Linked DNA regions of Homo sapiens. The protein of the gene in region 2 interacts with the protein of the main gene of each other region in a biochemical or structural test. Each region holds a gene or a part of one and is shown on either strand. Other genes may lie near its edges. The genes, in order: DIAPH1, TCERG1 and SF3A3.

The links.
Region 1: the proteins of TCERG1 (region 2) and DIAPH1 form a complex in vitro, tested with the Homo sapiens proteins (one study listed by BioGRID).
Region 3: the proteins of TCERG1 (region 2) and SF3A3 form a complex in vitro, tested with the Homo sapiens proteins (one study listed by BioGRID).

Annotation. Positions count from the first base shown.
Region 1 is NC_000005.10:141,528,400-141,532,149, reverse strand, and holds part of DIAPH1 (protein diaphanous homolog 1), read left to right. Parts: intron 1-2,452; coding exon 2,453-2,547; intron 2,548-2,876; coding exon 2,877-2,978; intron 2,979-3,208; coding exon 3,209-3,448; intron 3,449-3,567; coding exon 3,568-3,697; intron 3,698-3,750. UniProt on the Homo sapiens protein: Actin nucleation and elongation factor required for the assembly of F-actin structures, such as actin cables and stress fibers. Binds to the barbed end of the actin filament and slows down actin polymerization and depolymerization.
Region 2 is NC_000005.10:146,450,258-146,454,007, reverse strand, and holds part of TCERG1 (transcription elongation regulator 1), read right to left. Parts: intron 1-3,750. UniProt on the Homo sapiens protein: Transcription factor that binds RNA polymerase II and inhibits the elongation of transcripts from target promoters. Regulates transcription elongation in a TATA box-dependent manner.
Region 3 is NC_000001.11:37,983,273-37,987,022, reverse strand, and holds part of SF3A3 (splicing factor 3A subunit 3), read left to right. Parts: intron 1-2,243; coding exon 2,244-2,316; intron 2,317-2,762; coding exon 2,763-2,854; intron 2,855-3,750. UniProt on the Homo sapiens protein: Component of the 17S U2 SnRNP complex of the spliceosome, a large ribonucleoprotein complex that removes introns from transcribed pre-mRNAs.

The DNA.
Region 1 (3,750 bases), 4.9 Mb from region 2:
GCTTGTTTCAGGAGAGGGATCAGCATGTATGAGAGCATGAGATAACATTGTGCAGTTCAGGAACTGCAAGTAGTTGAGTACAACTGAGTAAAGTTTAAATCAGGAAAATGAGTGAGATTATCCTGTGTAATTTTTAGGAAGGCTGCTTTGGCAGTGATTTTGAGGCTGGATTGCTTTTTATCCTGTGTAATTTTTAGGAAGGCTGCTTTGGCAGTGATTTTGAGGCTGGATTGCTAAGGTAAGGGGAGACTATAGGCAGAGATGAGTTATGTCATTGTTTTAAACTAGGTGAGATGTGATCAGGGCCTGAAACTAAGGTGATGAGAATAAGAGAGGGAGAGGATATTAAGATGGTAGAATTAGGCTAGGTGCAGTGGCTCATGGCTGTAATCCCAGCACTTTGGGAGGCTGAGGCAGGTGGATCACTGGAGGTCAGGAGTTCGAGACGAGCCTGGTCAACATGGCAAAATGCTGTCTCTACTAAAAATAGAAAAATTAGCTGGGCATGGTGGAGCACGCCTATAATCCCAGCTACTCATGGGGCTGAGGCAGGAGAATCGCTTGAACCCGGGAAGCGGAGGTTGCAGTGAGCCAACACCATGCCGTTGCACACCAGCCTGGGTGACAGAGTGAGACTCATCTCAAGCAATAAATAAATTAAAATAAAAAACTAGCCAGATGTGGTGCCGCATGCCTATAGTCCCAGCCACTTGGGAGACTGAGGTGGGTGGAGGATTGCTTGAGGCTGGGAGGTCCAGGCTGCCATGAGCTATGACTGCACTGCTGCACTCTAGCTTGGGCAACAGAGTGAGATGCTGTCTCAAAAAAAAAAAAGAGAGAGAGAGAGAGAAGGTAAAATTAATGGAATTTAGTGATTGACTTGGGATAAAGGAGAAGGTGCTTTGAGGTTTAGGTCACTCTGCGGAAAGTGGTACCATTTACTGAAATAGGAAAATTCAGCAGGAACAGATTGTCTTTTCGGGGAGGTGGATGTGAGAGGTAGCAGGTTGGTGTCTTACTTAAAGTATATTCTCTAAGTGGCTGCCATCTTTTCATTGGCTTTGTGGTTATGGAATAAATCAGAGTCGTGGAAGTGAGAGAGAATAGGCTAGTTTAGATTGCTATAAAGTGAAAGAAAGAGAAACTGGTAATTTAGAGAGGAACATTGAGTAAGATTTAAAAAACTTGATTATGTATATATGATGAAGGGAAAGGTCTGTGGGGCTGCCTCTTCTGTTGACACATGAGGAAAGGATGAGTACATGGGAGTATATATACTTAGACGTAAATATATGAACACATGCCTCCTATAAGCTTACGAAAATGTTGGTATAGTTTTCTTCTAGGCGATTCCAAAAGGCTTATCTGAGTCTTTTCTAGTCTGGCTCTAACCAAGAGCCCTAGTGCTTTATTTTTAAGTAGGATAAGAGAAAGCTGAGCAAGTAATTTGACCAGTGGCTTTGATTTTTCTCAGTGAAGAGGAGCAGGGTCTTCCTGGAACAAATGGGGAAGTGGTGGGGCAGTGGGGAAAGTGGGAATATGTTGGAGGACCTGCCAAGAAGGGTGGGAGAAAGTGGAATTGGGACACACAAAGAGAATTGCTAACAGCGCGGAGGCCCCAGTTATCATTGGTGCTACTGCAAATTCATAGACTCCAGTCCGCATCAGCCTAGGTGTCAGAGTAGAGAAATGAAATGGCTAGACTGACCAGGGACCCAGAAGGAGAAGGAAGCAAAAGAAAGGTAATAGTAGGAGTAATAATACTAATGGGAGTCATAGTAGAGAGCAAATGAACTGATGGTTTAGAGGCTCCTAATGAAATAGGAAAGGCAGAGTGGAACTGATATATCAGTGAAAACAGAATGGTCAGGAGACTGGAAAGAGAGGTCCTGATAAGGCTGAAGAGTCAAGTGAGAGATTAGAAAGGGAGAGTTGAAAAAACAGGATGTATTTGTTAGGGAATAGGATATGGTGGTTTAAGGTCAAGGCAGCTTTGAGGATCACGTCCTGAGAGTGGGGAACTAAAGTAGAGTGGGGTGAAAGTCTTTGACGTATATATACTTTTTTGAGACGGGTCTCGCTCTGTTGCTCAGGCTGGAGTGCAGTGGTGCGGTCACAGCTCACTGCAACCTTGACCTCCTGGGCTCAGGTGATCCTCCCACCTCAGCCTGCCGAGCAGCTGGGACTACAGGTGCACACCACCACGCCTGGCTAGTTTTTGTATTTTTTGTGGAGATGAGGTTTCCCCATGTTGCCTAGGCTGGTCTCAAACTCTGGGGCTCAAGCGATCCGCCCACCTTGGCCTCCCGAAGTGCTGGGATTACAGGCATGAGCCACTGTGCCTGGCCTAAAAGAGCCCTGTTAGGAAGATTATCCAGCATAGGTTTGCAGGATGGGTTGGAAGCGGGAACAGACCGAGAAGAACATGTCTTAATATCTCATTTTCTGGCAGCAATCTTTTTGGGTTCCTTCCGCATGCCCTATCAAGAGATTAAGAATGTCATCCTGGAGGTGAATGAGGCTGTTCTGACTGAGTCTATGATCCAGGTAAGGAGTAAGGTGGTTCTGCTGGAGCAGGCTCTTCTGTGTCGCTGGGCACTGGCCTCATCTCTGTGTAGATGAAGAGGATCCTCCTCCAGCATTGCTGACTTATGAATGCTGGCTTTGAGAAACTGCCTTTTCTCTGGTGGTCAGATTACTTCTGGTATATTTTGCAAAAGTACCCCCATCTCAGTAGCTGCCTCTCTTCTCCCACCATATGTTTCTTTCTGTATGGTCCTTGAGCAGAGTGTGGGACTGACAACAGAGTAAAAGTTGTTTAGGCTTGAGTTGTTAGCGAATTCCCCTCCAGCTGAGATGTCTCTTCTGTCTTTCAGAACCTCATTAAGCAAATGCCAGAGCCAGAGCAGTTAAAAATGCTTTCTGAACTGAAGGATGAATATGATGACCTGGCTGAGTCAGAGCAGTTTGGCGTGGTGGTGAGTGAGGCCTGTGGCAGTAAGCGGTTTTCCACCTCCTGTATTCCCCTCCCCTCTAGAGAGCAGCCTGGGCATATGCTCCTTGCCGCTTGTCTGTTTTTGAACCTGTCTTAATCTCTCTCTTCTCCCTGCTCTGGAGCTGTGATCCTCCCATAGGAGGCTCAAGCGTGTATCTTTTTCTGACTTCCCCCTCTTTTGACTGTAATGGAACTGCTTGTGTTCTTTACTAGATGGGCACTGTGCCCCGACTGCGGCCTCGCCTCAATGCCATTCTCTTCAAGCTACAATTCAGCGAGCAAGTGGAGAATATCAAGCCAGAGATTGTGTCTGTCACTGCTGCATGTGAGGAGTTACGTAAGAGTGAGAGCTTTTCCAATCTCCTAGAGATTACCTTGCTTGTTGGAAATTACATGAATGCTGGCTCCAGAAATGCTGGTGCTTTTGGCTTCAATATCAGCTTCCTCTGTAAGGTGAGCCAAAGAGGTAGGGCAGGACAACACAAGGAAGGCTGTAGCCTCTATGAGTTCAGTGTTGGCAGGAGGCCATCTTGGACATGTCAGGATTTAACAGTTTCTCCTCTTTCTCTAAGCTTCGAGACACCAAGTCCACAGATCAGAAGATGACGTTGTTACACTTCTTGGCTGAGTTGTGTGAGAATGACTATCCCGATGTCCTCAAGTTTCCAGACGAGCTTGCCCATGTGGAGAAAGCCAGCCGAGGTGGGGCAGTTTGGAATGAAGCTAGAGCCCAAAAGTCTCTGCATGGGGAGGGA
Region 2 (3,750 bases):
TTGGCAATGGTCTTGATCTCCTGACCGCATGATCTGCCCTCCTCGGCCTCCCAAAGTGCTAGGATTATAGGCATGAGCCACAGCGCCTGGCCGGAAGGAATGTTCTATTAAAAGGGGGATGTGTATTCTTCAGATATGTCAATGTTATCCATAAAAGACAAAGAAATGTTGTGGAAATGCTCCAGATTAAAAAAGGTTAAAGAGTCATAACAACACAATTTTTTTTTTTTTTTTTAGAGACAGGGTTTTGCCATGTTGGCAAGGCTGGTCTTGAACTCCTGACCTCAGGCGATCTGCACACCTCAGCCTCCCAAAGTACTGGGATTACATGCGTGAGCCACCACGCTCGGCCAATAACAACACAATTTTAACTCTAGATTGGATTCTGTACTAACAGGAGGAAATGCCATACAGGGCATTGCCAGATCAACTGACAACACTGGAATATGCACAACAGATTAAAGTATTATATCATTACAAATTTATGAAGTTGATAATTAGGCTGTAGTTAAGTAAAATAATATCTCTATTCTTAGAAAATACTGAAGTATTGAAGGGTAAAAAGCCATAGGTATACCTTACCCTCACAGTTCAGAATAACAAAGAGGATGCACGTGTGCACGCAAATAGTAAAGCAGAAGAGGTAAAATATTAACATTGAATAACACCCTAGCTTTATTTTTGCGACATTTTGTAAATTTGAAATTACTTCCAAAGTTTTTAAAGGGGGCAGGGGGGTCACTTGGCAGATCATTAGTAGTCTCTACCTAAAGGGAAAGCCTTTCCCTGTAGGGCACACTGCCCCACCACCCCTCACTCTCAACACCCTAATGTATTTTCTCCACAGCATTTAAGCAAATAAGTAATATCACATGAGATAGTATTATCTATCTCTTCCCCCAAGTGCTTTTGTAAAGAGAATTATTAACTCCTAAAAGTGCTTACTATGAGCCAGGCAGTGCTTGCTCTAAGCTCTTTTCAAAAATTAAGTCTTTTAATCATCAAAACAACCCAATGAGATGGATACTATTAATCTCAGTTTATAGATAAAGAACTAAAGCAAAGAAGTCACTTGTCCAAGGCCACACAACTGGTTCAGTACTAAAGCCAGGATTCAGGTGGCCCACGGTGGCTCGCGCCTGTAATCCCAGCACTTTGGTGGCCAAGGCAGGCAGATCATTTGAAGTCAGGAGTTCAACATCAACCTGGACAACATGGTGAAACCCCATCTCTACTAAAAATACAAAAAAATTAGCCGGGCATGGTGGTGCACGCCTGTAATCTCAGCTACTTGGGAGGCGGAAGCAGAAGAATTGCTTGAGCCTGGGAAGTGGAGGTTGCAGTGAGCCGAGATTGTGCCACTGCACTCCAGCCTGGGCAATAGAGCAAAACTCTGTCTCAATAATAAATAAATAAAGAAAATAAAGAGAGGATTCAAACACAGGCAAATGCTCCTTCAGAGTAGGAATTGTGTTCACTCTTGTATCCCTAGCACATAGATCTGTACATAGTAGGGCTCAATAAATATTAGTATTAGTATTTGTTGCATGAACCACTGAATACCTAGGTGATACAGTACCCAAACTACCTTACAAGTAGCGTATGCAGGATCTTAAAAAAATTATTTTTACAATTCCACCCATTTACTGAGTACCTATCATGGTATTCCCAGTAGCTACTATACATCTACATTATACATAAAAAACCTACATTTCTGTCCTCAAGAGAGGAATTAACAATTATATTCTTTATATATTTGAAAATAATCATTCTTATAGTCTCTCGTTACCAGGCTCTTTCAACTTTCTGACATTTTTCAACCCTCTGCTTATAGATTACCCTTTGAACTTTCTCTAAATTTACCACATCATCGTTCAATTCTGACACACACCAAAAAAATCCTAATAAAGAACCAATTTAGGCCAGGAGCAGTGGCTCATGCCTGTAATCTCAGCACTTTGGGAGGCAGAGGTGGGCAGATCACTTGAAGCCAGGAGTTCGAGACCAGCCTGGCCAACATAGCAAAACCCTGAGTCTATTAAAAATACAAAAATCAGCCAAGCATGGTGGTGCATGCCTGTAGCCCCAGCTACTTGAGAGGTTGAGGCATGACAATCACTCAAACCCAGGAGGCAGAGGTTGCAGTGAGCCGATATTGCACCACCGCATTCCAGCCTGGGCAAGAGAGCGAGACTCAAGTCTCAAAAAAATTAAAAAATTAAAAAAAAAAAAAACTAATTTGCCTTCTGGACTTGTTTACAGTCCTGGTATAACCAGGACTGTAAACAAGTCCAGAACTACTACACCAAGTATATTTAATCAAATTTGCAAATGATCCTACAATCCAAAGGTTAGAAAATATGAGTTAAAAAGGAATATGGGCCGGACGCCCCCCGGTGGCTCACGCCTGTAATCCTAGCACTTTGGGAAGCCAAGGCAGGTGGATCACCTGAGGTCAGAAATTCGAGACCATCCTGGCCAACATAGTGAAACCCCCACTCTACTAAAAATACAGAAATTAGCCGGGTGTGGTGGTGCTTCCCTGTAATCCCAGCTACTCAAGAGGCTGAGGCAGGAGAACAGGAGGAACCTGACAGGTGGAGGCTGCAGTAAGCCAAGATCACACCACTGCACTTCAGCCTGGGAGACAGAGCAAGACATTGTCTTAAAAGAAAAAAAAAAAAAAAAGGAATATGGATCGCATCAAAATAATCAGAAGGTCTTTTTCAAATTATATGCATCCCCAAAAGACACAGGCCACTGTTACTGAAGGAATGTCCAAACTTTTAGGGCAAAAAAAAGATAATCACCAAGGAAAGACACTCTGTTTCAGGCTTGAGTTAATAATGTACCCTACTCTTAGATTTTCTTTCCATCTGCCTCTCCTTTTTTCAAAAAGTCTACAGTATTCATTTCTGTACAATTTCATACTTCCTGGTTACAGCTTGAAGTTAAGCATTTAAGATCCAGAACCATAAAAAAGCCCTGTTAGGACTCCGTCTTTTGTTGTCAGGCTAGTTACATAATTTCTGAGCCTTGAGTTTCCTCAGATGTGAATGAGTAAGGAACAGAAAAGGTATCTGATATCACTGTTCAATGAGATAATCCCGGTGAAACATTTAGGGTGGTAGCTGGTACACAGTAAACTACTTCAACTATCATTACTTTCATTCCCCCACAAAACCTAGCAGTGTTTATCTGTAAAAGGCATTTCATTATTAATTTGTTATGGTTTTCAAAAGTCTGCCACTAAAATGGTGACAAAATTCACATAATTTCCTTTTTTGAATAGCCTGAAGTTGCCATTTTCTGATGTTAATTACGCACAGAACATGGGCTGGGCTCTTTATATTATACTGCTTCATCACAACAACCTCACCAGAACCTGCAATGAGGATTAAATGAGCTAATAAAGTACTTGGAATAGTGCTTAGTATGTAAGTGCTATCTAAGTTATTAGCTATCATTACTGTTTCTGTAACATTAGGACAGTAATAGTACTGGTAAGTGTTAAATAATATTAATATTAGTAATGTTAGCTATTATTACTATAATTATTATATCAGGCCCTGTATAACCTGGCCCACATTAACCTTTCCACAAATTCTAGTCTTTTCCTTTAAATATTTCAAGTTTATTACTTTGAAGCCTCTGCACCTGTTCTCTTTGCCGAGCATGTTCTTCCCCAGATTTTCACATAACTAGCTCCTTCTCATTACTCAGCCTCTAGTTCAAATGTCACCTCAAACT
Region 3 (3,750 bases), on a different chromosome or scaffold from region 2:
CCCAGCAATTTGGTCCACTCTGAGACTCCTCTGATGAATAATCTTTGCTCCATGGCTCCCCGTTGGGTTGGTCAAGATTTTGTCCAATCTGCATTGTGGTCTAGGCTATCCTGTCCTAATCCTACTTTCTCTTCCTTTTTATCTTTCACAGAAATTACTCTCCCCAATAAATTGTGTTCCTAACTCTGTCTTTTTTTTTTTTTTTTTTTTTGAGATGGAGTCTCGCTCTGTTGCCCAGGCTGGAGTGCAGTGGCATGATCTCGGCTCACTGCAAGCTCCACCTCCCGAGTTCATGCCATTCTCCTTCCTCAGCCTCCTGAGTAGCTGGGACTACAGGTGCCTGCCACCACGCCTGGCTAATTTTATGTATTTTTTAGTTGAGACAGGGTTTCACCATGTTAGCCAGGATAGTCTCTATCTCCTGACCTTGTGATCCGCCCACCTCGGCCTCCCAAAGTGCTGGGATTACAGGCATGAGCCACCGCGCCCGGCCCTCATATGCCCTGGAGCTCACTTATAATAAGGTAAAGAGAAAAAGGGCCTGGGAAGGCTTCCATCAGAAAGGTCACATGACCACTCCAGGTGGTGTTGCCTTACTGAAGTTAAGCAAAAGAGAGTTTCAGAAAGGCAGTCATGGTGTCAACTGTTATTGATTTATATCTGCCAGGATTGCTGCTTCATTAAAGTAGTATGAATGGAAATCTGGTCACAAGGTAAAGATGGGTAATGGGGAAGTAGAAGTATGGAGTATGGAACATGCATTTGAAAGGCTGGTAGCCAGGTGCAGTGACTCACGCCTGTAATCCCAGCACTTTGGGAGGCCGAGGCGGGTCGATCATCTGAGGTCAGGAGTTGGAGACCAGCCTGGCCAAAATGGTGAAACCTCTCTCTACTAAAAACACAAAAATTAGCCGGGCATGGTGGTGCACGCCTGTGATCCCAGCTTCTCATGAGGCTGAGACAGGAGAATCGCTTGAACCCAGGACATGGAGGTTGCAGTGAGCTGAGATCACGCCACTGCACTCCAGCCTGGGCAACAGAGCAAGACTCCGTCAAAAAAAAAAAAAAAAAAAGTCTGGTAGGAAAAAGAAGGGGAGAAACAGGAGGGTATTGGGGAAGACAGAGAAGCATACTTATTTGAAGGAGCACAGGGAAAAAGGAAGAGACTAAAAACAGCAAAAAATAGAGGCTGTTTATTGCAATACATAGCGCGGAGGTAAATGAAGGGACCCTCACACACATAGCCCCCTTGGAGGATAGAGAATGAGGTCTTCTGCTAACCAAGGGAGAATAAATGAATACCATTCTGATGTGTTAACCTTATTCCAGCCATGGTCAAAAGGTAATGAGGAATAAATGCTTAAATAACTGATTAGAAGGATGCCCAAGATATACTAAATGTCAGACGCAAGTCTTTTATGTTAAAAAAACAAAAACAAAAACCTATGCAGGCATGAATGTACTTGTACAAATACATATATTTAAATACATAGAGCACTGTTTTCCAAACTTTGTGCATATTTGAGCCACCTGGGGATCTTTAAAAAGTACTGATACCTGCCCTCCTTTGATTTAATTGGTATCAGGTGCATCAGGATTTAAAAAAAAAACTCCCCCAGGTGATTCTAATGTGCAGCAAAGTTTGGGAACCACTGGCATAGCAAAAGCTCTGTTAACAGTGGTCACCTGTTCTCAGGAGAATTAATAAAGGTGGACTTTTGAGTTTTTGTGAGCATGTGTTACTTTAGTGGGTTTTACTCAAACAGTACAAAAAAGCGGGGAAAAACAAGGTAATTGGAGAACAGTAGTAGATTTCCTAGTGAAAAATCAAGGCCAAATAAATCATCAGAAGTCCAACTTTCTGTGTATTTCATTTCTGTGATCTTGCAACTTTTACATTGAAAAATCCGCCTGCGGTCAGGCACAGTGGCTCATGCCTGTAATCCCAGCACTTTGGGAGGCCAAGGTGGGCAGATCACTTGAGCTTAGGAGTTTGAGACCAGCCTGGGCAACATGGCAAAACCCTGTCTCTACTAAAAATACAAGAATTAGCCAAGCGTGGTGGTGTGTGCCTATAATCCCAGCTACTCGGGTGGCCGAGGCAGGACAATCGCTTGAACCCGGGAGGTAGAGGTTGCAGTGAGCCAAGATTGTGCCAGTGCACTCCAGCCTGGGCCACAGAGTGAGAATCCATCTCAAAAGCAAAAAGAAAAATCCACCTGAGCTTTTACTTTTCCCCTCAGATCTGTGTGCCAATGTCAGTGGAATTTGAGGAACTCCTGAAGGCTCGAGAGAATCCAAGTGAAGAGGCACAAAGTAAGTAGGGGTGAAAATTTCATTCAGCACCAGCAAAAATACAGGTTAATGACAGCTCAGATTTGCAGCCATGGCCTCAGAGATATTTATAGCCAGGATTTCTTGCTGGTTTTGTCTTTGCTGGTTTCTGGGCTAGAGTGACATCCTAAGTTGGTCTTGGGCAAAATGTTCATTTTGTTCTCTCCTACCTCAAATTTACTGGCTTGGAAAGCCAAGGATTGTTCACTTTAGTTCACAATACTAAAATGAGTCAGTCCTTGTTACCTTGTAAGAGAAAACTCACTTTTGATCTCACTTAACTTATTGGAGGTTATATTGTGAGCAAAGGGAAGACATTTGGGTGAAGTGCTGCCTCAGGAAACTAGGAACACACAGTCCATTTGAAAAGGTAAGTCCAAGAGAGTGGTCTGTAGAAACTGAATCATTGATGTATCTGATTCCCTCAGACTTGGTGGAGTTCACAGATGAAGAGGGATATGGTCGTTATCTCGATCTCCATGACTGTTACCTCAAGTACATTAACCTGAAGGCATCTGAGGTAAGGCCTGGGAAAGGGCAGAGAGGTTCTGATTCTCGAAGTGAGTCAGGACAGTAGGCTGGAACTAGCAGACATGAAGCCATTGTAAAGTGTCTTCCTTGTGTTTTAAAACTCTTATGTAAATATTAAAGAGGTGATATGCTCTCTTGGAATGAAATACTATTCAAAATGAAAGTTTTCTACAGTGAAAACAAGAAGCATATTTATTTATTAATACTTTTTTTTTTATTTTGAGATGAGGTCTTACCATGTTGCCCAGTCTGGAGTGCAGTGGTATGATCTTTGCTCACTGCAACCTCGACTTCTGGGCTCAAGTGATCTCCTGCCTTAGCCTTCTGAGTATTTGAGGCTACAGGTGCATACCACCACCACACTTGGCTAATTTTTGTCTTTTTTTGTAAAGATGGGGTCTTGCAGTGTTGCCCAGGCTGGTCACAAACTCCTGACCTCAAATGATCCTCCTGTCTCGGCCTCCCACAGTGTTGGGATACAGGCATGAGCCATTGTACCCAGTCCATTATCAATACAGCAAGCATATTTTACCTTTGCCAAAATAAATCTTTTTTTTTTTTTTTTTTTTTTGAGACAGGGTCTCACTTTGTCACCCAGGCTGGAGTGCAGTGGCGCGATCTTGGCTCACTGTAGCCTAGACCTCTTGGACTCAAGTGATGGATCCCGCCTCAGCCCCACCAAGTACTTGGGACTACAGGCGTGTGCCACCATGCCCAGCTAATTTTTTGTATTTTGTGTAGAGATGGGGTTTTGCCATGTTGCCAAGGCTGGTCTTAAACTCCTGAGCTCAAGCAATCCGTCTGTCTTGGCCTCACAAAGTGTTGGGATTATAGACGGAAGCCACTGCATCCAGCCTTACATAAGATTTCTTTAAATTCTTTTTT